7 linked regions of the Homo sapiens genome follow. The protein of the gene in region 4 purifies or fractionates together with the protein of the main gene of each other region. This does not show direct contact. Each region holds a gene or a part of one and is shown on either strand. Other genes may lie near its edges. The genes, in order: KCNIP2, UBA52, UBAC2, STK17B, FAF2, SLC2A1 and SDAD1.

What was found.
Region 1: the proteins of STK17B (region 4) and KCNIP2 purify together in Homo sapiens (affinity purification with mass spectrometry; 3 studies listed by BioGRID and IntAct, with this or other methods). This does not show direct contact.
Region 2: the proteins of STK17B (region 4) and UBA52 purify together in Homo sapiens (affinity purification with mass spectrometry; one large-scale study listed by BioGRID and IntAct). This does not show direct contact.
Region 3: the proteins of STK17B (region 4) and UBAC2 purify together in Homo sapiens (affinity purification with mass spectrometry; one large-scale study listed by BioGRID and IntAct). This does not show direct contact.
Region 5: the proteins of STK17B (region 4) and FAF2 purify together in Homo sapiens (affinity purification with mass spectrometry; one large-scale study listed by BioGRID and IntAct). This does not show direct contact.
Region 6: the proteins of STK17B (region 4) and SLC2A1 purify together in Homo sapiens (affinity purification with mass spectrometry; one large-scale study listed by BioGRID and IntAct). This does not show direct contact.
Region 7: the proteins of STK17B (region 4) and SDAD1 purify together in Homo sapiens (affinity purification with mass spectrometry, with the first as the bait; one large-scale study listed by BioGRID). This does not show direct contact.

Annotation. Positions count from the first base shown.
Region 1 is NC_000010.11:101,841,001-101,845,064, forward strand, and holds the start of KCNIP2 (A-type potassium channel modulatory protein KCNIP2), read right to left. Parts: upstream 2,801-4,064; 5' UTR 2,569-2,800; coding exon 2,496-2,568; intron 1-2,495. UniProt on the Homo sapiens protein: Regulatory subunit of Kv4/D (Shal)-type voltage-gated rapidly inactivating A-type potassium channels. Modulates channel density, inactivation kinetics and rate of recovery from inactivation in a calcium-dependent and isoform-specific manner.
Region 2 is NC_000019.10:18,570,603-18,574,656, reverse strand, and holds the start of UBA52 (ubiquitin-ribosomal protein eL40 fusion protein isoform 1 precursor), read right to left. Parts: upstream 2,801-4,054; 5' UTR 2,748-2,800; exon of another isoform or gene 2,050-2,747; intron 1,818-2,049; exon of another isoform or gene 1,710-1,817; coding exon of another isoform or gene 1,697-1,709; intron 1,365-1,696; coding exon of another isoform or gene 1,357-1,364; coding exon 1,254-1,356; intron 996-1,253; coding exon 909-995; intron 1-908.
Region 3 is NC_000013.11:99,336,854-99,340,353, forward strand, and holds part of UBAC2 (ubiquitin-associated domain-containing protein 2 isoform 1 precursor), read left to right. Parts: intron 1-3,466; coding exon 3,467-3,500. UniProt on the Homo sapiens protein: Restricts trafficking of FAF2 from the endoplasmic reticulum to lipid droplets.
Region 4 is NC_000002.12:196,168,779-196,172,854, reverse strand, and holds the start of STK17B (serine/threonine-protein kinase 17B), read left to right. Parts: upstream 1-1,276; 5' UTR 1,277-1,522; intron 1,523-4,076. UniProt on the Homo sapiens protein: Phosphorylates myosin light chains. Acts as a positive regulator of apoptosis.
Region 5 is NC_000005.10:176,454,885-176,458,384, reverse strand, and holds part of FAF2 (FAS-associated factor 2), read right to left. Parts: exon of another isoform or gene 3,388-3,500; intron 1-3,387. UniProt on the Homo sapiens protein: Plays an important role in endoplasmic reticulum-associated degradation (ERAD) that mediates ubiquitin-dependent degradation of misfolded endoplasmic reticulum proteins.
Region 6 is NC_000001.11:42,945,369-42,948,868, reverse strand, and holds part of SLC2A1 (solute carrier family 2, facilitated glucose transporter member 1), read left to right. Parts: intron 1-3,500. UniProt on the Homo sapiens protein: Facilitative glucose transporter, which is responsible for constitutive or basal glucose uptake. Has a very broad substrate specificity; can transport a wide range of aldoses including both pentoses and hexoses.
Region 7 is NC_000004.12:75,980,946-75,984,445, forward strand, and holds part of SDAD1 (protein SDA1 homolog), read right to left. Parts: intron 1,093-3,500; coding exon 988-1,092; intron 601-987; exon of another isoform or gene 526-600; coding exon 427-525; intron 21-426; exon of another isoform or gene 1-20.

The sequences.
Region 1 (4,064 bases), on a different chromosome or scaffold from region 4:
CGCGGCCTTTCCCCTCGGAACCGCACTGCCCAGCGGCCCCGCCGGGCTGGGAAGACCTGAGGGATTAGACAGGGGTCCGGGCGGGGCTCGGACTGTTTTTTGTTTTGTTTTGTTTTCCTAAAGAGTCTCTCCCAGCTCCCTTTTGAGCTTGGGGTGGGAGTGGGGAAGTAAAATGTTCGGAGGTACCCAGGATGCCCTGAGGTGTAACTTTCCAGCTGCTTCCCTGCAAGCCTGATGGGCCGGGAAGACGGGAGCTGCAGACTACCCTAAATCCGATCCCAGGAATCCCAACTGCAGGGAAGGGGAGGCGAAGCCTGGCGCGCGCTTCAGCACCGCGGACAACGACTCCCCTTCATGCTTCAGCTTAGGCATCTCTCAGCGCTCAGAGCTCAGCGCCGCCCGCCCGCCCGGGAGTCTTCGTTGACACTGGCGTCCCAACCCGATTTGTCTCCCGCTATAAAATAAGCCGCCCTTCGAGAGGAGAGCTCCTGGTAGTCCTATTTCTACTTTCCAAGTCGTGTGTGGAGCTATCTACAGCTAGGCTGCTGTAGACCCGGACCACAATTCTTGATACTTGTCAACATTTGACCTTTCCATTTTCCTTGGGAGGTAGGCAGGCAGGCAGGAAGTAACATTCCCTTTTACAGATGAGAAAGGTGAGGCCAAGAGAACAAAAGTCACATAGCTGGTACACTTCCATTCCTGACTGAACTGGGGCAGGGCATCTCCAAATACAAATGCTTCCCCCACCCAATCTCATTCAAATAGCCAAGTGGGGAAGGGATGGTTTCACTAAGGGTGAGAACCCATTAAAGCTGGAAGCAAACACTGACTAATGTGATACTATTGAAGGCCCCTAGGCCCTTACTACTCTCAAGAATCCTAAGCTGGTGATGGGAACAGAATTCATGGAAGAGCTGGACAGTGGGTCCTTTGGATTCCATCCAGCTCTGAGGCACATCTGGCATGGTCTCTCATCTGGGGCCAGCCTGAGTGGCTCCCCTGATCCTGACTAGGGCCTCCCTAGGGACAGTGATGGGGGATGGGGGAAGACACATGCTCAAGGCACCTCATCCTAGTCCCCTCCCCCTTCCCAGGTCTCAATCTCACTCCCCTCAGGAAGGACAAGGATCATGGCCTCCCTCCACCTCCCCAGCTTTGTTTTGGCCTCAGGGAGACAGCCTCCCTCCTCCCACTCTGCTGGCTTTCTAGAGCAGGCTGCACAATGAGAGACACAAACACATACATGGAAATGTACCCAGGGTGACACAGTCACCTACACAAACACATGGCTCTTCCTACCAAACCCAGGAACATGCACATGCACAGATGTACTGGCCTCACATACCTCCCCATGTGGGAAAGAGAGGATGCCCGGGCAGCCAAGTGGTTTGGTGGACATGCAGGACACCACATGGCACTTCCCAGGCCTAGAGCTTCTAGCTCTGTCTCTGGAGGGGAAGGAAGAGGATGTGTTTTCCTGGGGTTTGAGTGAAGTTCTGAAAGGTTTGTTGGGGGTTGAAGGATTCAGTTGTAAGAATAATCTCAGTACATGATTTGGTGTGGGGAGAGAGGGCTGACCCAGCACTAACTAAAGCCTCCCTACAGGGGCCAGGTGCTGGAGCCATAAGGTCTCTTGGAAACCAGACTGGGCAGCTGAACACTAAAGTCCCTCCTTGGGTCCACCTGGGCTATTTGTGGAAAAATTGGTGAAGGAGTGGGGTGTACTAAAGACCCCTATCTGTACCAGGAAGCCAGAGAGGCAGCAGGGATGAGACACGTCATAGACACTCACAGAGCCCCGCTGCAGACATCACCACATGAAAGTACACAACTAGCACTGAACACTAATCTCACAACCACAAAACACAACACAACCTACTTTAACAAATTCTTGCCCAGAGGGCTTATGGTCATGAAGGCTTACAAAGAGACAAGCCACCCTAAAGTAGAGCCCTGACACATTCTGGTAGTTACACACCACTTCATACAGAATTACACACTCACAACACATCGTTGCACATAGAGACACATGGTCAAAACAACTTCATCAGTACAACCAGGGTCCTACGCAAACTCAAACATCTGACGAGACCATACAATTGCACTGCCACATACAATCACACTCACCCTAGCTGTCACCAAGCCCAGGGCACATGGCAACCAGCTGTGGGAGGTGCGCGCGCACACACACACACACACACAGAATGACAGGTGCTCACGCACGTAACACCTCCCACTCCAGACACCCTCTCAGCCCTGTGTCACATACGCCCACACCTGCTGCCTCTCCACACCTGCCTCTTCTGTTCCTCCCCAACCCCTGCGGGACCCAAGGCTTTGAACCCCCAGTGTCCTGCCGCCCAGACCGGCCATAAGAGTGCCTGGGAATGGGGCAGAGTGTGGGTGCGGGCCAGGCCGGGGTCGGAGAGGCGGAAGGGTCTGGAGGAATGGAATCCACCCTCCCTCCCGCGACCCCCACGTCACTGACTCACCCGTGAGCTGGTCGTAGGAGCCGTCCAGGTCTCGGGAATCGGACAAACTCTCCTTGCGGCCCTGGCCCCGCATGGCCCCCGGCGCCCCGCTCCCGCCCGGGCCGTGGGAGGGGGCGCCGGGTGGCCGGGATAGGGCGCTCACACGGCGCCCCCTGGCGGCCTACTGTGCTGTCGGGGCTGGGGAAGTCCGGGCTGAGGCTGAGTCTGGGAATGGGCCCGGGGTCTGAGGTCTACCCGGAGGTCCTGGAGCAGGAGAGGGAACACTAGGCAGCAGGTGAGCGCAGAGCCGGAGGCAGAGCGGAGCTGAGCGCGGAGCCGAGCCGAGCTGCCTCTCTCCTCCCGCCCCCTCCCCGCGGCTGTCACCGCCTCCTCCCCTCTTTGGCGCTGCCGGGATTGGCTCCCCCTACCCCCGCCCCCCACCCTTTGCAGCCCGGGGGAGGCACCCGGTGAAAGGGTGAACTGCAAAGTGCGGGGAAGGAGACTAGCTCCCCAGCAATCTGCCCCTAAAGCAGAAGTCACGGGGCTTGGCGGGGGGGGGGGGTGGGGGAGGAGGAGAGCGCGGGACAGAAGAGCCCCACTGAGAGGAGGAAACCCCGCCCCCAATTCTCAGGCACCCCGTCCCCCTTCGTCAACACAGTTCTGGCTGAGGCAGAGCCTGGGGTATCATATCTGAGTCCCCGCTCCGTTTGTCTCCATGTCAGCCTGTATTTTCTCTGTTGTTCCTCCTCCCGTGTATGCGTCTCTCGTGGTCCCAGACAGTCCCCACCGTGCTTAAAGCAGGTTAGGGATGCAAAGGAAGAGTCAACCCAGCCTCTAATATTAGCAGGCTCATCGTGGGCCAATGGACTACTGTTTCATCTTCTCTCAAGTTCCAGAAGGACCCCAACTCTCACCCACTCCAGGACCCCGTCTCTGGAACCTATTCACTCTCAGGGTGCCTCCTTCACTGATCTAATGAACCCCATAGGCCGACTAGGAAGATAAAAAAACTAGTGAACCAGGTCAGTTTCTCAAGACATCCTTGCTCTTTTGTTCCTCCCCTGCAGCAACTTTTCTGCCCTTCTCTTTTGTCACCTGTCCTGTCCTAGATTCCTTGTTTTCCAGCAGATATGGGGAGCAACTGACAGGTTTGGGGATCCAAGTCAGGATACAGAGTAGGAAAGAAATGCCCTTGTTATGAAACCCCTTCCTTAAGATTAGCTCCTTTCCAAAGGCAGGGCTAGCACGGAAGCTGGGCTGCCTCATCTCCCAGGAATGGATCCTGAGTGTTTTGAGCGTCACAGGTCTGACCTTCCTCAGGATGCTTCCTGGGCTCCACACCCAAAAGCCCCCCAACCCGTTGCTATGAGGATGAGGGGACCTTGTCTGGTGGGTCCAAAGGAGTGACCTGTTAAGACCAAAAACTTTAAAGTGACTCAAGCACACTTAATCTCTTCAATTGGCTTTAATTTCCAACCACTTGATTTAATCAACCCAGCAGGAATTGTGGCGGGAGTTCAGGCCTAAGAGGGGGACAAGTGGCTGAGGGTAAGATTGTCTTTAGGAGCAATGCCCTGCGCTTGGATCTCC
Region 2 (4,054 bases), on a different chromosome or scaffold from region 4:
GGGGAGTCTGAGACTGACACATGCCAACTGAGGCATCCATCTGGGTTTCTAACATGGAAGCCGACCTCTAAGTGGTTCAGGCAAGGTCAGACACTGAAGTCTAGGCGGGGCACCATGGCTCACGCCTGTAATCCTAGCACTTTAAGAGACCAGCCTGGCCAACGTAGTGAAACCCTGTCTCTACTAAAAATACAAAAAAAATTAGCTGGGCGTGGTGGCGGGTGCCTGTAATCCCAGCTACTCGGGAGGCTGAGGCAGGGGAATCGCTTGAACCCGGGAGACGGAGGTCACAGTGAGATCGCGTCACTGCACTCCAGCCTGGGTGACAGAGTAAGACTCTGTCTCACAAAAAAAGGACACTGAATTCTTGTCGCTCCCACAAGTGACACTAATTTCCTTATTGCAGTGATAAAAAAATTCACATTATGACTTTTTTTTTTTGTCTCCCGAGTTCAAGCAATTCTCCTTCCTCAGCCTCCTGAGTAGCTGGGACTACAGGCACGCACCACCATGCCTAGCTAATTTTTGTATTTTTAGTAGAGATGGGATTTCACCATGTTGGTCATGATGATCTCAATCTCTTGACCTTGTGATCTGCCCGCCTCAGCCTCCCGAAGTGCTGGGATTACAGGCCTGAGCCACTGCACCCAGCTGATTTTTGTATTTTTAATAGAAACGGGATTTCACCACGTTGTCCAGGCTGGTCTTGAACTCCTGACCTCAGGTGATCCACCCGCCTAAGCCTCCCAAAGTGCCGGGATTACAGGCATGAGCCACTGTGCCCAGTCCCATTATTTTAAACAAAACACAAGTCATTTGAACTGCTCCCCAACCCCTGAGGCCATCAATGCTCCTTTCCTAGGACCTGGGGATCTTGGGTCCCTGCCCAGCAACCCCAACCCCGGTACCTTTCTGGATGTTGTAGTCTGAGAGAGTGCGGCCATCCTCCAGCTGTTTGCCGGCAAATATCAGACGCTGCTGGTCAGGTGGGATACCTGAGGGGGAGGGAGGCTCAGTTAGAGGCTCTGCGGACCATATTACTGGCAGTGTCCTCTGCAGGGGAGCTCCAGCACTACCCCCAGTTTCTCAAAAGGCCAACTGAGGTAGAAGATAACAAACGTTCTTCAGATCACATGGAGAAGCAAGGGCAAAACAGATCTAAAGTCAGCACAACCCACACAGGACTGAGACTCCCCTGGGCAGAGAGGGACTCCCAGTTCACAGCCAGAGCCCCCACACCCAGCCCTACTCACCCTCCTTGTCTTGAATTTTGGCTTTGACATTCTCAATGGTGTCACTGGGCTCGACCTCAAGGGTGATGGTTTTGCCAGTGAGGGTCTTCACAAAGATCTGCATGTTTGCGTCTGCAGGAGGAAGGGAGGCAGGATAGACTGGTGAGCAATGCATGCCTGAGTAGCACAAGCTCAGGTGCCTACACCACAGTTGCTATCCCTTTGCCTGCACCAAGTCCAACTGGTCCTGCCCCAGTACCTGTCTTCCTTTCACTCCTCCAAGCCTGGCCCTGCTAGGCTTCTCACACACCCTGGCCTGTAGTCTAAACATGTCCTGGAACTAAAGACCACATGTCCTCCACCCTCCTGACCGCACGGGTGCTCTTCAGGAACACAGACTGTGGTTATTCTCCTTAGGTTTAGCGGCGGAAGGACTCGTCAGTATCTCCTGATGGAATAAGTACCCTTTGGCATCATCTTGCTAGATCCATCTTCCCTGAAGGCGGTCCCACCCTCTTCCACGGCAGCCAGGTCCTGATCTGCACAGGCTGCTCCTGCTGCCAGCCTGGATGGGAAGCCATCCCCTACAACACACATGCCTTCCTGTCGCAGCCTCTCTCCTCTCTAACTCCAAGCTGGAGCACCCAACACTCTTAGCTTCCTTCTCAATTACACCAAAACTCTCCAGACCCCACTTCTTGCCTTGACCCCAAACCACGAACATCACTTAGTATCTACCAACCACCTGCCAAGCATTGTTCACATATAAAAGTTGACTTAAAAAGACAAAGAATCGACCGGGCGCAGGGGCTCATGCCTGTAATCCCAGCACTTTGGAAGGCCGAGGCAGACGGATCATTTGAGGTCAAGAGTTCAAGATGAGCCTGGCTAACATGGTGAAACTCCGTCTCTACTAAAACTACAAAAATCAACTGGGCGTGGTGGCAGGCGCCTATAATCCCAGCTACTCGGGAGGCTGAGGCAGAAGAATCGCTCGAGCCCGGGAGGTGGAGATTGCAGTGAGCCGAGACCGCACCACTGAACTCCAGCTTAGGCGACAGAGCAAGACTCCATCTGAAAAAAATACAAATAGTCTAAAGAAAAGTCTAAAAAGCAGACACTACCACCAGCTCCTCCTTACAGACGTAGTAATGGAGCCAGGTATGAAGACTCAGCTCGAGAAATTTAGTATTTCCAAAGCGACTGACGCAGTGACTGGCAGAGTTAACGCTACACGCTCAATACCCCTCTCTCATTAACTCGGATCTGCCCCGAGGACCTCTTCCCGCCCGAGGCCTCGTGGGGTCACGCTGGCAGGCAGAGCAGGCAGGCTCCTCTCCAAAACGGCGCTCGCCTCCTGGGCCCCGGTCTGGGCTCCGAGCCGTGGCCTCGCGAGCCCTGCCCAGCCACCCTGCCGAGACTGGCCCGCATGAGCCAGCTCAGGGCCGCCTCTTCTGCCGCCCAGGCCCCTGCAGCCTCCCGCAGCCCCCAACCCGCTCTCGGCCCGGCGCGAACCCGCACGACCGCCGCCACCAACCAGCTCGGCCGCCTCGCTGAAGAAAAAGAAGATAGCGGAACCGGAAACCACCTAATCGCCGCCGAAAGCGCTTGCGCACGGAGCACGCCGGACGCCTGCGTCACAATTCGCGCCGCGCCTTGGGCCCCGCCCTGCCGCCATCTTGGATGCTGGCGAACGAAGCCGCAGCGCACGTGGGTGAAGGTCGCCCACCCGCTTCCGGTTGTGGGCCCCGCCCGCCGAGTCACTTGAGACGATTGCACCTCTCCCCGTGTTTGCGTCCGCTGCCTCTAGGCCACTGACAACCGCTGGCGGTTGGCGGGCCCTCAGCGAATAGCTGAACGGAGTAGAGGAGAATGTTTTCTAATAAAGCAAAGGTATTAAGCAGAGGACTGCGGGTCCAGGACGCAGGAGTCGGGGCTGGGAAAGCACCTAACACCTGGAATCGGTTATTATAAAGCTCTCGGCCGCTGTGCCTGAATGGATTTCAGGACAGCAGCAGGGAGAGCAGACGGTACTACCGCATTCGCCCAGAAAGGTGGTGGTGCCTGACAAAAGGTGTCAAGCGGGACTCAGGATTTTTTTTTTTTTTTTTTTTGAGACGGAGTTTCGCTCTCGTTGCCCAGGCTGTAGTGCAATGGCGCGATCTCGGCTCACCGCAACCTCCGCCTCCTGGGTTCAAGCAATTCTCCTGCCTCAGCCTCCCGAGTAGCTGCGATTACAAGTGTGCGACACCATGCCTGGCCACTTTTGTATTTTTAGTAGAGACGGGGTTTCTCCATGTTGGTCAGGCTGGTCTCAAACTCGCGACCTCAGGTGATCCGCCCGCCTTGGCCTCCCAAAGTGCTGGGATTACAGACGTGAGCCACTGCAGTGTCTCTTTTCAGTGTAGGATCCAGATTTGTGGGTGGTTAAAAAGTGCCAGGGCGGGACCTGGGTCCGGTGACTCACGCCTGCACTTTGGGAGGCCGAGATGTGCGGATCACCTGAGGTCGGGAGTTCGAGACGAGCCTGACCAACATGGAGAAACCGCATCTCTACTAAAAATACAAAATTAGCTGGGCGTGGTGGCGCATGCCTGTAATCCCAGCTACTCAGGAGGCTGAGGCAGGAGAATCGCTTGAACCCGGGAGGCAGAGGTTGCAATTAGCCGAGAGAGTGCCATTGCACTACAGCCTGGGCAACAAGAGCAAAACTCCGTCTCAAAAAAGAAAAAAAAAATTACAAAAATTTTTCAGGTGTGGTGGCGGGTGCCTGTAATCCCAGCTACTCAGGAGGCTGAGGCAGGAGAATCGCTTGAATCCGG
Region 3 (3,500 bases), on a different chromosome or scaffold from region 4:
TCCACCATGCAGGTACAGACCATGCCTGGCCAGCCCCGCAGCCCATGGTGCCCCCCTTCCTTCCCACCTCTCTTCCTCCTTCCCACCTCCCTCCTGTGACCCCTTCCCCTTCTTTCTCCCTCCCTTCTGTGACCCCTCCTAGCACACATAGTCATCATCTTTGCGCTTTCCTGTCTCGTTTTACTGCTTAGTGTGTGGTTTAGGTTCATTCATTCACAGAAGTGGAATCGTGTTTTCAGGCTTTGGGTCTGGCTTCTTTCTCCCAACATGGTGTTTTTAAAATGCAAACCTTAAATATTCCGCATGAATTTGAGGCTTGGCATTTACATTCCAACAAAACACCCTGTTAAGATTTTATTTTGAATGATATTTAATTTATGTATTAATTTGATGAAAATTGGTATCTTAAAAGTTTTGCATCTTCCTATTCATGGAACTGGTATCTTTATTATCACTAGGGTTGGTTTTGAAAAAATATCCCTTATTATCTTTTTCTTTTTTTTCTGTCAAGGCCTTATATATATATTATTTATTTATTCCCAATTATCTTACAGTTTTTCTTGCTGTTATTTGCTAACAGTTTATTTTTTCTTTCTAAACAGTCTGTATTTTATCCCTGGTTGCTTTTAAGGATTTCTTTCTTTTGTTTCACCACAGTGGATCTAGATGTAAATTTCGTTTTAGCATTCTTTTAGGGACTCTTGCCCTTTCATCCTAAGGATTTATATTCTTTCTTTATTCTAGAAAACTCTCAGCTGTTTATCTCTTTAAATATAATATCCTTTCCCCCATATTCCCTCTGTTGTCTTCTTCTGGAACCCCTATGCTGACAGCCGCATGAGATGCACATAATCTGCCTGTGCAGAGGCCTTGGCCTTCCCAACCCACATGGACCCTCCTTGGTTCATGCCCTACACAGCTTTTCCCTTCTCTCTGTGGAGGGGAGAAAGGGTACATGGAGCATGAGGAGGAACTGGGGTGCCTCTTACCCAGACTTAAGTAACCCTCTACTTCTCTCCTCCTTCCACAGGGCCTAGACCCTCTAGTCCAGGGGTATCTAGTCTTTTGAACTCTTCTGTGACACATTGGAAGAAGAATTGTCTTGGGCCACACATAATATACACTAACACTGAAGATAGCTGATGAGCTTTAAAAAAATTGCAAAAAAATCTCCTAACTTTTTTTCTTTTTTTCTTTTTTTTTTTTTTTTTTTTTTTTTTTTGAGACAGAGTCTCACTGTGTCGCCCAGGCTGGAGTGCAGCGGCACAATCTCGACTTACTGTAACCTCCACCACCCAGGTTCAAGCGATTCTTGTGCTTCAGCCTCCTGAGTAGCTGGGACCACAGGTGTGTGCCACCACGCCCGGCTAATTTTTGTATTTTTAGTAGAGACGGGTTTTTACCATGTTGGCCAGGCTGGTCTCAAACTCCTGACCTCTTGTGATCCGCCCGCCTTGGCCTCCCAAAGTGCAGGGATGACAGGTGTGAGCCACTGCGCCCAACCTTGTAATGTTTTAAGAAAGTTTATGAATTTGTGTTGGACCACATTGAAAGCTGTCCTGGGCCACATGTGGCCCACAGGCCTCAGGTTGAACAAGCTTGCTCTAGTCCCTGTGCTTTTCTGAGTCCCACAGGACTCTCTGCAGGCATTTGGACTTATATGCTGCTTATATGCAGAGTGGTTTATAATCACTTGATAAGCTTTCTATTTTGTTAGCATGGTTCAGGATTAGTTTCTGGTTTCATGGACCTTGGAGTTTGTTTCTGTTTTCATTTTCTTTGTCTTGTACTATTTTTGAGTAAAGGGGCACAGAAATTATTTGAAACCAGAAGTTGTCCACCATTCACTCTTCAGCCTACTACAGTCTGTCTTTGGTACCAAAACTGTTCTTGTAAACACCTTGTTTATCAAACACCTCCATTTGCAACATCCAGTGGCTAGTTCTGTCTTACTTATCAGCTGCATTAGATATAGCTGACCATCCCTATTTTAAAACACTTCTTAGCTTCAGTGATAACTAAACTCTATTTCCCTTCTCTTCACTGGCAGCCCTGTCTCAGATTTCCTTACTGGCGTTTCCTACTCTGTCTGTCCATAGAATATTTGTGCACTCCTGGATTCAGTCCTTAGTCCTGTTCTCTCTTCTGCTGTGTCTCCTCCTCCCCCCCATTTTATCTCCTCTAGTCCTGTTACCCTAAATGTCATATCATATCCAGTGACTCTGAAATCCTTATCTCGACCTTTTCCTTGAGTTCTAGAATTACATAGCCACCTGCCCACTCAGTAGCCCCCCAAGATATCTAATAGACACTCCCAAGCTCGGGCTGCGCAGCATCTGCTGCTTTCTCTGCCCAAAATGTTATTTCCCCAGTTCATCAAGTCACGGGCACCGCATCATCCTTAAGATCTTCGCTCAAGTATCACTTTCTCTGAGGGCTCTCCTGATGTCCCCCGCTGCCCCCAGAGTAGGTTCGTGCCCCATGTCACTTTATTTCCTTCCCAGAACTTGCCAGAAATAGTTTTATGTGTTGACTTGATTACTGCCTGTTCTCCACATTGACTGCTATAAGCCCTGTGAGAGTGGGGCCTTGCTTATCTTGTTCTTTGCTGTATTCTAAGTTCCCAGAACAGTGCCTGGTGTGTAGCACAGTCTCAAAGAATTCTTGCCAATTCATCAATTTAAATTTTATTTTTAAACATTGAAGTATACTTTTCTCATATTAGAAAGTTGTCAAATATGTTCTAATCTGATCTTCTAATCCTAAGAATCAAATTCACATCAAGATTTTTTTTTTTTTACAAAGGAATAGCCATAGTCATTTTTAACTAGAAAATCATAGGAAGCCTTGAGACTTCTGTAACCATACATTATAAATGACCTTCAAGATGAAGACAAGGTTGGTTTATAAATGGAACTAATATTGGTGAGGATTTTAAATGTCTAGAAAAATCAGTAGTTGAAAAACTGATTAAAACACTATGTAAATAAAAACCAAGATTTTAGATTGTGTTTATTCTCTGATAAATTGATCGTGTGACTGGGTCAGCTGAGACATGGCAGTTGTTTTCTGCTGGTGTCTCTGTGATGGCCATCTGCCAACAAAGGTAACCGCAGAGTCAGTACAGTGTGAAAGTGTTTCAATAATCAGATCTTTTACGGCTTTTTAAAAAATGAAGACAGTGTCTTGACAATCTTTTACCAGAACTTTGAATACTAAATGATTAGAATTTTGCTAGCTCTTCTAATTCAATAAAAAACAATTTTGTTTTACTAAGTTCAATTTTGTGTTGATTTGCACTGCTTAGTGTTCTGCAGTGTGGTAGAGGATTTTGCTTATTGCCTAACACTGCTATGACTAAGAAAAATACCGTGTGCAGTGTCTGGAGGCTGCTGATTTTTGAGTCGTGTACATTTTTTAAAATAATACTACATTTAAACAATCACATTGGACGTTTTTCTTCTAGATGTCCGGTCTGTGCTACGACAGCAAAATGTTCC
Region 4 (4,076 bases):
GAAAAGTTAATTCCAGTGTGTGGCATTTTATTTTCATCCTAACTTTAGGCTTCTCTAGTCAGCCCAATTGTTAGCAACAAGAAATTAGATAGATGGAAGCAATATTCTCCATTTGACAAGGTTTAGGGGCAAGACATTATTAACCTGGGAGGAGGAGTTAACCTAAGTAACAACAAACAGACTTCATAAAAGGGCTGTGATGCATTCTATACCTTTATCTTGGGGAAAATGCAGTAGGAAAGGGAAACAGCTAGCTTCACAGGAATTTGCTTGGCTTACTGGGATAGAACAAGAAAACCTGTCCTTTATATGCTAACTGAACATTAAGTCTTTTGAAAGCAAGAGGACGACTCCACTCCCAGTATCCTTTCCCACGGAAGGGTTTTCTGCAATTATCGTAAATGTCCTCTGAAAGCAATCCTAGATTACATAACTAATCCCATATATGTATGAGTATGTGTGTATCCTATACATATAAACTAGGATTATATATCTATGTAAAACATTTGTGTCTTGCACAGAACTTTGAAAATTTCCACTGTCTTCAAAGGATAACAGATCTTGAGTAGGTTGCTGAGGGCTTTCATCTTTTTCCTTAGCACTATAAATGCAAAATCGGCTATTCAGCCTATTGGGACCCTCCCTACACTGCCTTCAGTCAGTGCCTCAGAAGGGACACCATTCGCGACAGCGGACGTTAGCAGTGGGGTCTAGGTTCCATAAATCCCCAACTGATGTTGACACTCCGAGGAACCTCTGCCAAGTTGTAGCAAACTGGGTTCTCCACTTACAGGGTACGTTCCGGTCCTAAGGAAGACTCTCAAGAAGAGTCAGAAAATAGGTCTTTGGTAGGCACTGAAGTTTGGTAACTAGTCGCAGGCAGCTGGGACGAATTTTGCGGCTTCCTTCTCCCCGGTCTCCGGATATTCACACCTCTCGAACTGACCTCTCTGAAGGTGGGAAGGAGTACACAGAGCAGTAGTTCCAGCCCCGCGCGCCCCCTCTGCAGCGCCGCCCCCTCCGCCCCTCCCTCGCGGCAGCCCGAGTGCGCCCCACCTGCGCCGCCACGCCGCCGCGCCTCCCCGCCCCGCCTCGGGCCAGCCAGGCGCCGCACCCTCTCACCGCCGGGCCCCGCCCCGCACACGCGCCCCCGGCCGGTGCCCCGCCCCTCCCGTCACGTGACAGACCCACCCTCCGCACCCGTTCCGATTGGCTCTCCCGACCTAGGGGGAGGGATCTGGCGAACGGCGATGCCCCAGACGCGGCTGCAGTTTTCAAACCGCGACTGCAAGCTTCGGTAGTCCTCTCCGCTGCTGTCGCCAGGAGTCACTTCACGAGAAGCCAGGTCACAACCGTCGGCCCTTGTCTGGAAAAGTAAAAGTGGATCCTGCCACGTTCGGAGCTCCCTGGCGCCTCGCCCGGCTGGAGCTAGAGAACTCGTCCTGTGGCGGCCCCCGGCGTGGGGCGGGACAGCGGCCCCCTGGAGGGGGCAGTCCCGGGAGAACCTGCGGCGGCCGGAGCGGTTAGTGTCCTGCGGGATTGGCGGGTTGGCTCGGGGCTGCGATGGAACCAGCCGCCTCGGTACAGAGACCTCATACGTGAGGAAGGAGGACCCGAGGAGGGTTTAGGCGGTACGGTCCGGCTGAGAGGGGCTTGGACTCCGCCGCCCCTGAGGTGGCTGATTGCTGCTGGCGCCTCTCCGCTTTGCGGCTGGAGTCCGGGTTCCCTGGGGCTCCGCGCGGGGGGCGGCCGGCGGTCCTCCCACCACCCTCCTCAGCCCGGGGCGCGTGTCTGTGTCTGTGCGTGTCCGTGTGTCCCCGTGCGCCCTCCACCCGGCCGGCCCCGGCTCTCCCCAGGTCGCGCCAGGCAGGGCCCCCTTCGCGGCGGGCCCGCGCGGGTCCCTTCCACAGCAAGGCCACGCGGTCCCCCTAGCCTCTCCCGAGTCCCAGCTGCGGCGTGGGCGCGTTCCCATCGGGACTCGTGGACGCGTCCTGCTCCCAGCTGCCTTTCGTCTAGAGAAAGTTCGTGTTCATCTTGTGGGACGTTTTCAGTTACTGCTTGGGAACAGTGTTTTAAAACCAGCGAGAGATCAAGACGGGCTACAGCTGTTTCCGTGATTTTCAGCGATCTGATTTTTGCTTTGATGCCTTGTGACCCACTTAGTGTGCACGACTCATCCTCAAACTATACCACTACTGGATGCCAACGATTTTTGACATTTACCCAGGCTCTTTGTTTTATTGTAGGGAAAAGCGTTTCATTTGAATTTCCTCCGAGGGAGAAGTAGAGACAAAGTTGAAAGAGGCTTTATAGCAGCTGGTAGCTGGCATTAGTTTCTGTCTGGACTAGAGGCACTCTGACATCAATTTGGAAATTGGAATTAAGAAAATACGTTTTTAAAATCGTAATACTTATCAGATTTCACTAATATTTAAACACATGAGGACTGTGTATCACATTCACCGATTGTTTTGTCGACGTAATGTTTACATCTGTGGTGCTAATGATAAGCAGAACCTTGCCAGGGACGTTTGACGTGGTGTGGCCACTTTACGTTTTCAAGTCTATGAGAATGTCTGCGCGGAGACAGCATAGCTCTGTAGAAATGAGTGGCAGCGTATGTAACCTGGCATTTTGAACCCAGGAGCACAATTTTATTAAAGGAAAATAAACCTACTTTCTCATTGATAACACTGTTTTTTAGTTTTATGGTGAACTGTTCGGAAGTAATTTTCAACAAGTGCTTATTTTATAAATATTAGACCGTGTACCCCTAGGATTGTGTATTTTTTAAGAAAACTGGTCCATAGAAGCGGTGCAAAAGTTTTAAACTCATCTGCCTCGGATCCTCCTCCTCTGAGCAGATGCTCAATTAAACTTTTTCTAGTATCTTAATAATTGGAGGTATTAATAGATGTTTTATTTTTGAGATACATATTGTACATTTTAGATCTTTTTTTTTTTCTAAAGTAGGGATCCAAAATTGAGGTGAAATATATTTGCTTACATGGCAAGACTTTTTAAAAGTAGAATTTCTGTAATTGAAGACCATCCTTTTTTGTGTGTGAATAGAATGGTTGCGGTTTCTCTTGGGATCATTGATTAGTGAATTACGATTTGGTTAAGATAGAATGCGTTTTTAGGAAGTTGGAGGTTTGACTAATCGCTGTGTTAGCATATGAGTAACAAATTTGAAGAAGATACAAGCATTTTTATGGCTGACGTTTCTAATCAGATAATTTTATTTTTAAGCTTGCTCTGTTTTACTTTTGTTAAGTGAACATTTTAACATGTTTTAAAGCTCTTTGATAATTATAAGGGAGAATTTCCTTATGAAAATATTTTTGCTTTAATTTTAGAGACACAAGAAGTCAAGGAATTCAGTTAATAACACTTTCACTTAATCGTTAAATTGCCTTAAAATTGCATGCATAGTATATTGTAATTCACATTTTCTGTATGTAAGATTGGCAGTTAAGAATAGTATTCTGGCCGGGCGCAGTGGCTCAAGCCTGTAATCCCAGCACTTTGGGAGGCCGAGGCGGGCGGATCATAAGGTCAGGCGTTCGAGACCAATATGGTGAAACCCCGTGTCTACTAAAAATACAAAAATTAGCCGGGCATTGTGGCGCGCGCCTGTAGTCCCAGCTACTCGGGAGGCTGAGGCAGAAGAGTTGCTTGACCCGGAAGGCCGAGGTTGCAGTGAGCCGAGATCACGCCACTGCACTCCAGCCTGGGCAACAGAGGGAGACTCCGTCTCAAAAAAAAAAAAAAAAAAAAAAAAAATAGTATTCCTAGGCTTACTACTTTTAAAGGATACTGATTGATTCTTCTTTTCATAAAGAAATCTTCTGCACTGTATGGGTATTTGTTTTGTCAGAAACATTAGCAGTCATTTATCTACTACCTTTCCACTTAGGAAAACTTCAAATGTCAGTTGCTTTAGTTTTTCATAATATTGATGACAAAATTCAGTGATTTTATGTTTAAGTACTGTAGTTTGTATTCTATGCTGGGCTGTTATCAAAGGCTATTTCTTTGAATATTTCAGTTAAGAAATGTTCTTATAAAGTTAC
Region 5 (3,500 bases), on a different chromosome or scaffold from region 4:
TGAGGCCAGACGTGGTGGCTCATGCCTGTAATCCCAGTACTTTGTAAGGCCAAGGCAGGTGGATCACTTAAGGCCAGGAGTTCAATACCAGCCTGGCCAACATGGCGAAACCCCATCTCTACTAAAAATACAAAAATTAGCTGGGCGTGGTGGCACGTGCCTGTGGTCCCAGCTACGCAAGAAGGGGAGCTGGAAAGATGGCTTGAGTCCAGCAGGCGGAGGCTGCAGTGAGCCAAGACTGTACAATTGCACTCCAGCCTGGGCGACAGATACTCTGTCAAGGAAGAGAAGAGAAGGGAGAAGAGGAGTGAAAAGAGAAGAGAAAGAGAATAGAAATATTATTCTGGAAAAAGTAGGAAGGCTGAATTGAGAAGACTTTAAATGTGGGCTACCAGTTATACAAGTTTAGTCCAGAGGAGAAATGAAGTATAAACTGAGGCAGTGGCAATGCATATGACAAGAGGGTTAACTAAGGACTGTGACTTTTTGTGACTTTAACTCCAATAAGAATTTACAAACACACATTTAAAAATATTCCCCAGTATTTAGTATGAAAAATTGTTCTCTTTCAAATTTATTCCAGGACTGTGAGAAAGTTTTCATAATTTCCTTGGTGGAAAAGTCCAAGGCCCACACACAGGCCCCCCAAGTGTTCACGGTGATTTCTGCTATTCATCACTTCTGGCACTCTCACTAACAGTAGTATTAAACACACACACACACACACACACCCCTGAAAACAGTTCAAATCAAATAATCAGTTTTATGACTATTTCATTTTTGATACTAATTTTAAGCAAAAATACAATGTTGGAGAAACGACAACTAGAATCCTTGAATATGTGAAATAATCCTCAGATGGTCCAAAATAAAAATGACAAAATTAACGTTTATGGCCGGGCACAGTGGCTCACGCCTGTAATCACAGCACTTTGGGAGGCTGTGGCAGGTGGATCACCTGAGGTCAAGAGTTCGAGACCAGCCTGCCCAACATGGTGAAACCTTGTCTCTACTAAAAATACAAAAAAATAAGCCAGAAGTGGTGGTGGGCGCCTATAATCCCAGCAACTCTGGAAGCTGAGGCAGAAGAATCACTTGAACCTGGGAGACAAAGGTTGTAGTGAGCCAAGGTTGAGCCATTGCACTCCAGCCTGGGGACAACAGCGAAACTCCGTCTCAAAAAAACAAAACAAAAAATACTAATCTTTATCAATACCCATCTCAAAGACCTACTTCTAAAAGACTATCTGCTGTAAAGGTAATCTGTTACTCAGAGTAATCAGAATGTATACTACTTTGCAAGGTTCAGAAATATTCCTCTTAAATACTTAGAGGAGTTCATAAATATCGATGCCCAGCCCACTCTGAAAAAATAACGCATTTTGAACCAACTTGATAATAAGTGTCTGTACTTGTCAAATAAAGAAGTACCCCAAAAAAGGGAGGCCAGCAAACACTACTGAGTAAGTATGTCAAAACCTTTCCAAGATATAACTATGTTCTTGAACAGATTCAGCAACATAAAGATGTCAACTACAACCCCTGAAGTTCATTTACAAATTTCATAAAATTTCAACTTTAAAAAGTTGATTTCAAATTTCTTTTAGAGGAGCAAATAAACAGGAAAACTCTGAAAAAGAGCAACAGAGTGGAGGCAGGGGTGTTCCTCCAGATCAAAATATATCATAAGCCTCTATAATTAAGTGTTATATTGGCATATATAGGGGAAGACCAGTGGAACAGAAATTCCAGTTGAGGCTGGGTGCAGTGGCTCACACCCGTAATTCCAGCACTTTGGGAGGCCAAGGGGTGGACTGCTTGAGCTCAGGAGAGTTCCTGTTTCATTGCTGTTTTAATTTGCAATTCCTTAAGGACCTCAAATCCTTAAAGATTTGAGCATCTTTTCATATGCTTACATGCCATCTGTATATCTTTTTTGGTGAGTTGTCTGTTCTGATCTTTTCCCTACCTTTTGATTGAGTTGTTCATTTTAAGTTTTAAAAATATATTTTGGGCCGGGCACGGTGGCTCACGCCTGTAATCCCAGCACTTTGAGAGGCCGAGGTAGGCGGATCACCTCAGGTCAGGAATTCAAGACCAGCCTGGCCAGCATGGCAAAACCCCATCTCTACTAAAAATACAAAAATTAGCCGGGTGTGGTGGCACACACCTGTAATCCCAGCTACTCGGGAGGCTGAGGCAGGAGAATTGCTTGAACCCAGGAGGTGGAGGTTGCAGTGAGCTGAGATCACACCACTGCACTGCAGCCTGGGCAACAAGAGCAAAACTCTGTCTCAATCAAACAAACCCAGTCAGTCTTCATGACTACTTACCTATGCTATGCAGAGTTAAGTATAATATAATCATATCTCTATAAGACAAAGACAGAAGTTCTCTTACCCAATGAGAATGAGACCCATAACTAATCAATTAACTGAAGTCAAAGTAATAAAAATATTCATTTTAACATTTTACATGTTTTCATTTTTACATAAATGAATATTTATGTAAATATTTCATTTTAACATAAAGTACTCACATGAACATAAGTTTCTGATAAAAGCCTATCGTTTTCTTTAGGGAATGAATCCACTAGCACTCCTTGGAACTTCTTTAGTTTTTATTTTTAGTTTTTTGAGAGGGAGTCTCACTCTGTCACCCAGGCTGGAGTGCACTAGTGCGACCTTGGCTCACTGCAACCTCTGCCTCCCAGGTTCAAGCAATTCTCCTGCCTCAGCCTCCTGAGTAGCTAGGATTACAGGCACCCGCCACCAAATCTGGCTAATTTTTGTATTTTAGTAGAGATGGGGTTTCACCATGTTGGCCAGGCTGGTCTCAAACTCCTGGCCTCAGGTGATCTGCCCACCTCAGCCTCCCAAAGTGCTGGGATTACAGGCGTGCACCACTGTGCCTGGCTATTTTTTACTTTTTTTTTTGAGACAGGGTCTCACTCTGTCACCCAGGCTGGAGTGCAGTGGTGCAATCACAGCCCACTGCAGCCTTCACCTCCTAGGCTAAGGTGATGCTCCCACCTCAGTCTCCCAAGTAGCTGGGATCACAGGCCCACAGGCATGCGCCACTACGACCAGCTAATTTTTTTGTTGTAGTTTTAGTAGAGATGAGGTTTCACCATGTTGCCCAGGCTGGGATCTTTTTAGCATAACCCATACTGATTTGATTTCCTTAAGTGTAGTGCAACCTTAAACACTTGCCAAGCAGTAAGTGTACAATGTTGTATCTCAATGATTTCTCCCTAAGTCATTTACAGTTAACTTGCCCACACCTAACTAAACAACAATTTTTTTTTTTAGCAATTTCCCCAGACAGAGCCTGTTTAAAGCTTTTAATTTAGTTTTCGTATCGATGAAAACTCTTTTTGCACTGGTATTTTACAGGTTTATGTAGTGTTTAATTAAACACATGTGACAAACATAACCAGCACACACTAGTTTGGGAGCAAATATAACTGCCTCTTGTCAGGAATACAACTTGACTGGTGA
Region 6 (3,500 bases), on a different chromosome or scaffold from region 4:
ATGGTCTCGATCTCCTGACCTCGTGATCTGCCCGCCTTGCCTCCCAAAGTGCTGGGATTACAGGGGTGAGCCACCGTGCCCGGCTCCAACTTTTCTATTTTTAGTAGAGACAGGGTTTTGCTGTGTTGGCCAAGCTGGTCTGGAACTCCTGGCCTTAACCAATCCGCCCGCCTCGGCCTACCAGAGTGCTGGGATTATAGGTGTAAGCCACCGCGCCCAGCCTTGAGGTTCTTTCTTTTAATGCCCAGAAGTTCATTTAAATGAGTAAGAAACACAACAAAACAAATTAAAAGGGAGCTGTCATGGATTCAGGTAAACCCCTCCCCCACTCCTTTGAGCCGTGGACTAAGCAGTTGGAAAGCCCTGCGTCCCCTGCTTCCCTGCACCTGGGGAACCCATGTGGGATGCTGTGGGAAGAGGACAAGATGGAGCAACATCTGGAGTCTGCCAGCCCTGGGACCCTCCTCTTGCCAGGAATACCCTGCCTCTGAGTAGCAGTAGCCACGTGCCCTTCCTGTGCCAATATAGATTGAGAACCTGCTGCAGGCCAACCCTGGGGCTGGAGCGCAATGCTGACACACTGACATGGGTCAAAAGGCCACAGTGTTTGGCAAGTTATACAATGTGGCCAGGGCCATCTGGCATCCGAGCGTTGGGGGAGAGGTCCTGAATCTTAACACCTCATCCATGGCTTCCTGGGAGAGGGAGGGCTCTTGTGGGTCGTGAGACCCCCAGCGGTGGGATAGGGAGGGTGAGGGGTGGGGACATGAGAAATGCTTCTCTGTGCTGGACCCTGAGCCCAGTTGCTGGCCAAGCTGGGAGGCCATGACTCTCCTAGGAGAGTCAGGATTTGAACTCAGTCTGCCTGACTTCAGAGGTCCTTCCTTGACAGCCCTGTGGGCTTGGAGTGGAGGGTTTTGTGGGGTGCTGTATTTACCTCTCAGAGCTCTGATGTTCCAGCACTCGTCAGGGGTTTGATAAATGGCTAAGGATGAACACTGGTCTGGCACAACAGATACTCACAGAGCCAGCTTTGCCCAAAAGCCAAATTGAAAAGTGGCAGGTTTCTTTGTTTGGCAATTAGCATGTGCTGTTCCCTACTCTCGTCACTCTGGCTGCAGACACGGTATGACCCAGGTTCCATTCCTTTTTTTTATCTCACTCTGTTGCCGAGGCTGGAGTGAAGTGGCATGATCTTGGCTCACTGCAACTTCTGCCTCCCAGGCTCAGGTGATACAGATGTGTGCCACCATATCCAGCTGTTTTTTTTTTTTTTTTTTTTTTTTTGTGTGTGTGTGTGTGTAATTTTAGTAGAGACCTGGTTTCACCATATTGCCCAGGCAGGTCTTGAACTCCTGAGCTCAAATGATCCGCCCACCTTGGCCTCCCAAAGTTCTGGGATCACCGCGTCCTGCCCCTGGTTCTATTCTTAAGGAGTTCCCAAACTGAGTGGCAGATGGGTAATAAGCTAGAGACTGCAGAGGACATAGCAAGAGCAAAGGCCTGGAAGAGAATGGAATGTTCTAGAAAGTAGTCTCATCCCCAGGGAGTGCTGATGGGCTGCTGGGGATCCCAGACTCTGGGCTGTACATTGCTCCCCACCAGTAAAAAAGGCTCCCACAAGAAAATCACAAGCTCTATGGGGCTAGTACCCTTCTCTAAGTCATCACCAACTGTTCATCAGCTTGACACCAGAATAAATAAATACACGTTGAGTGAATGGACTTCATTGCCATGTTCCAGTTCTAGCCACTGGCTGGTGGGGGCAGATGGTGCTGAGGCTGCCCGATCGAGGGTAGCTTGCTATTCTTCACCGATCCAGCAAACACTTGTGGAGGGAATTCTGCCAGGCTTCATGATGGATACTGATAGAAAACGTAACAGCAACCCTTTAAGGAAGGAACTTTCATCCCCGTTTTCTAGGTGAGGAAACCAAGGCCCAGAGCAGGGCTGCCTTGTATCCAACTCCAAGGTGAAAGGAGGCAGCTTGCTGCATTTAAACGTGGGTCTGCTTCCAAGCCCAGCAATGATCAAGCCGGCTATAGTGGGCGCAGCAGAGTGGCAGCATGAATCTGAGATTGGTCGCAGTGTCTTGTGCCTACTGAGGAGCAGGGGCCATGTCCCTCCCCCTACACCTAGCACTGAGCCACACTGAGCACGCTGTTTCTTAATCTGACTGGTCCCCATTTCTTCTCCTTGCACATACTGTTCTGTCCACCTGGAATGTAGCCTTGCCACTGCTTTCCCACTTGGCAGACTCTCTGTGTGTCCTTCACAGCCCAGCTCCAATGTCACCTCCTGGGAACTCATCTTTTTTTGTACCCAGGCAAAACTGGAAATCTTTCCCTCCAGGGTTCTCACAGTGCCTCATACCAGCCCCCTGTTGAAGCCCAGACCACACTAGCCTCTCATCTTCATCTGCCTCCCCACTGCCCCCACCCCACTGTACTGGAAACTCCTTCCTTGGTGTCAGGACTGGGTCCAGTTTCATCCGGGGCCCCAGCTCTACTTAGCATGAGACCTAGAGCATGGGTCACTGGTATTTTAGTCAGTCCTAGTGCAGCAGCTGCCTGGGTGGATGTGGATATGACCCAGGGAGTGGGTAGGCAGGTTTTCTAAAGTCGAGTTTGACCTCGACCTGCTGATGACAAGGTCCAGCGGAGGGGTATGTCCTTGGCCTCCAGCAGCCCCCATTGACAGAGGCTACAGTCGAGCAGCTGCTCAGTGGGGCCCCAGGGATGACTTCAGAGGCTCCAGACCCCTGGAACATCAGATGCAGACCTCAGTAAAACAGGGCCTGTGATAATAGCACTTACCTCACATAGCCAGTGTCATTCACTCATGCTCTACCAACATAATTTTTGCCAGATCCATGGATCATTTGTATTATTTTCCACTTAATGTTTTTATTTAAATTGCTTTGTTCTAAGTAATATGAAATCACAGGGCTTGTAAAAATTATTTTGAATAGGTGATTCCATTCACACCATTCAGAATTCAAAAAAGTGCCAAAGGCTATAAAATGAAATCTCCCTTTCACCCTGTCCCCAGTCACCCAGGCCCCCCCGGGGTTAGAATGTTACCTTTCTTGTACATTCTTGTTTTTTGTTTTTTGTTTTTTTTTTTTTTTGAGACAGAGTCTGCTCTGTCGCCCAGGCTGGAGTGCAGTGGCGCCATCTCGGCTCACTTCATCTCCCAGATAAAGTGATTCTTGTCCCTCAGCCTCCCAAGTAGTTGGGACTACAGGCACGCACCACCATGCCCAGCTAATTTTTGTATTTTTAGTAGAGACAGGGTTTTGCCATGTTGGCCAGGCTGGTCTCGAACTCCTGGCCTCAAGCTGAGATTATAGATGTGAGCCACCGTGCCTAGCCTCTTGTGCATTCTTTTAAATAGATGTGTATATTCTCCCCCTACCCCCAGCCAATTTTTTTTTTTAACCCAAAAGGTAGCATACAATATACACACTGCTCTGTTTTTGGTTTCGCTTTTGTTTTTTG
Region 7 (3,500 bases), on a different chromosome or scaffold from region 4:
TCAAACTGACTGTCTAATGGGTAAGTTTACTAATTTAAGGCATTATAAAAATGACAAGTTGTGATTAGGATTCTACATGCATATGAGATTTGAATGACTAGAAGAAATCATCTCAAAAGGTTAAAGAGCATCCTGTAGGGTTAGTGTGCTGGAAGAATAGAAAGATCACAGTGTAGCTGAAAACAATATGATATCAGAAACACAGGCTGGAAGCAGATCATGCAGGCACTTTTGAGCCAGGTTATTAAGTTTCCGTTTTACTCTAAGTATAAATGAGAAGCCATAGAAGGATTTTTAGGAAAGGATAATACATTATAATTTACGTTTTCTGAAGATAATTAGCTTAGAGGCTGTTCTCATTTAAATATATATGAACGCAGCACACATGAACACAGCACAATTTATTCATCCAACTACTGGTCCTACCATTCGCAGATCTGGATCCAATACGGTATGATTGCAGGAGAGAAGATCTTTCACCTCTTGAGGAAAATTACTTAGGTACTCTGGGTAGCAGTGACTAATCTGTAACAAAGCAAAGGCTCTTCTGAAGTTGCTCTCTTTCTCTCCTATAATTCAGATGCATACATTTAGGATGTTCTGCAAAACGAGAGTAAAAGGCTATGTTTCATAGAAGTAGATGGTTCCAAACAACCTTCTTTTCCTTCTACATGTTAATTTCTCCAACATTTATCATGGTTTCTCTAGTCTTAGTAATATTTATGGCATGATTTAGTACCTGCTTTTATGATGAATTTGAAGAAAAAAAATAGTCTTAAAGTTTTGTCCTGGTTAGTTATGCAAAAAGATCTAGTGACATTCTCTAACTCATGATAGGGAGAAAATAAAATTTGCAAAAAGGGAAAGTTAGAAAAATATTTTAATTAAGTTCCCATTCCAGAGTGGAATAAGGTTGAGTATTAGTGAAAAAACATTCAGCAAACTGTGTGTTAATACTGGTCTTTATTTAAGCAATTATATTCTTACCTGTGCCATAAACATCACCAGCTCTGCTAGTTCTTTGCTGGGTTTATTTGGTTGCAATTTGAAAATCTCCACATTGGATTTGTAGTGATTATACTGCTGTAGAAACTGCAGAAAAATAAAATTTAAGTTTGTCACATTGTATTACATGACTTTCTCAGTACAGACATTCAGTAGAGAAATTCTTAGTAGAAACTGTTGACGATCACATGGAGAAAAAGATAATGCAAAAGTATATAAAAACACTCCTTTTGCCTTATCTGCATTCTTCAAAGTGCGCTTTTTAAAGACCTGAGCACATCACAGATAATCTAAAGAACTTTTCCTTGGAATTATCACTACAAGTTTAGGCAGCATGGTGTAAGAACAGAGAAGCATGAATCCCAAATTCAGATTGTAGCCCTGTTCTGCCAGTTACTATCTAAATGATCCCGACTGCTGGGTGTAGTGGCTCACACTTGTAATCCCAGCACTTTGGGAGGCCAAAGTGGGAGGATCACTTGAGCCCAGGAGTTCGAGACCAAACTGGGTAACACAGGGAGACCTTGTCTCTACAAAAAATACAAAAATTAGCAGGGTGTGGTGGCGTGCACCTGTAATTCCAGCTACTCAACAGGCTGAAATGGGATGATCACTTGAGCCCAGGGAGGTTGAGACTGCAGTGAGCTATGATCATGCCACTGCACTCCAGCCTAGGCAACACGGAGGCCCTGTCTCACAAAATAAAAATAAAAATAAATGACCCCTACTACCATATCCATGTATGCAGAGCACTCAAATCAGCAGAAAAATAACAGGGCAGAAATATAAATTATATCTCAAGTACATGAAGCTCTCCAGTCAAAATCCCACCCCCCCACTGCCACCCCTTTTTAAAAATTATACTTTTAAGTTCTGGTATACATGTGCAGAATGTGCAGGTTTGTTACACAGGTATACATGTGCCATGGTGGTTTGCTGCACCCATCAACCTGTCATCCACATTAGGTATTTCTCCTAATGCTATCCCTCCCCTAGCCCCCCACCCCAACAGGCCCCAATGTGTGATGTTCCCCTTCCTGTATCCATGTGTCCTCACTGTTCAACTCCCACTTATGAGTGAGAACATGCGGTGTTTGGTTTTCTGTCCTTGTGATAGTTTTCTGAAAATGATGGTTTCCAGCTTCATCCATGTCCCTGCAAGGACATGAACTCATCCTTTTTTATGGCTGCATAGTATTCCATGGTATATATGTGCCATATTTTCTTTATCTAGTCTATCATTGATGGGCATTTGGGTTGGTTCAAAGTCTTTGCTATTGTGAATAGTGCTGCAATAAACATATGTGTACATGTGTATTTACAGTAGAATGATTTATAATCCTTTGGGTATATACCCAGTAATGGGATGGCTGGGTCAAATGGTATTTCTGGTTCTAGATCCTTGAGGAATTGCCACACTGTCTTCCACAATGGTTAAACTAATTTACACTCCCACCAACAGTGTAAAAGAGTTCCTATTTCTCCACATCCTCTCCAGCATCTGCTGTTTCCTGACTTTTTAATGATTGCCATTCTAACTGGCGTGAGATGGTATCTCATTGTAGTTTTGATTTGCATTTCTCTAATGACCAGTGCTGATGAGCTTTTTTTCACTGTTTGTTGGCCGCATAAATGTCTTCTTTTGAGAAATGTCTGTTCATATCCTTTGCCCACTTTTTGATGGGGTTTTTTTTTTCTTGTAAATTTGTTTAAGTTCCTTGTAGATTCTGGCTATTAGCCCTTTGTCAGATGGATAGATTGCAAAAATTTTCTCCCATTCTGTAGGTTGCTTATTCACTCTGATAATAGTTTCTTTTGCTGTGCAGAAGCTCTTTAGTTTAATTAGATCCCATTTGTCAATTTTGGCTTTTGTTGCCATTGCTTTTGGTGTTTTAGTCATTAAGTCTTGCCCGGGCCTATGTCCTGAATGGTATTGCCTAGGTTTTCTTCTAGGGTTTTTATGGTTTTAGGACTCTTGTTTAAGTCTTTAATCCATCTTGATTTAATTTTTGTACAAGGTGTAAGGAAGGGGTCCAGTTTCAGCTTTCTGCATATGGCTAGCCAGTTTTCCCAACACGTTTTATTAAATAGGGAATCCTTTCCCCATTGCTTGTTTTTGTCAGGTTTGTCAAAGATCAGGTGGTTGTAGATGTGTGGCGTTATTTCTGAAGCCTCTGTTCTATTCTATTGGTCTATGTATCTGTTTTGGTACCTTAAAAAAAAAAAAAAAAGACTAGGTCTCCCTCTGTCACCCAAGCTGGACTGCAGTGGCACAATCATAGCTCACTGCCACCTCAAACTCCTGGGCTCAAGAGGTCCTCCTGCCTCAGCCTCCTAAGTAGCTGGGACCACAGACGTTCACCACCATACCCAGCTGATTTTTCATTTTTATTTTTTGTAGAGACGGGATCTCTTTATGTTGCCCAGGCTGGACTCAAACGCCTGGCCTCAAGTGATCCTCTCACCCTGGCCTCCCAAAGTGCTGGGATTACAGG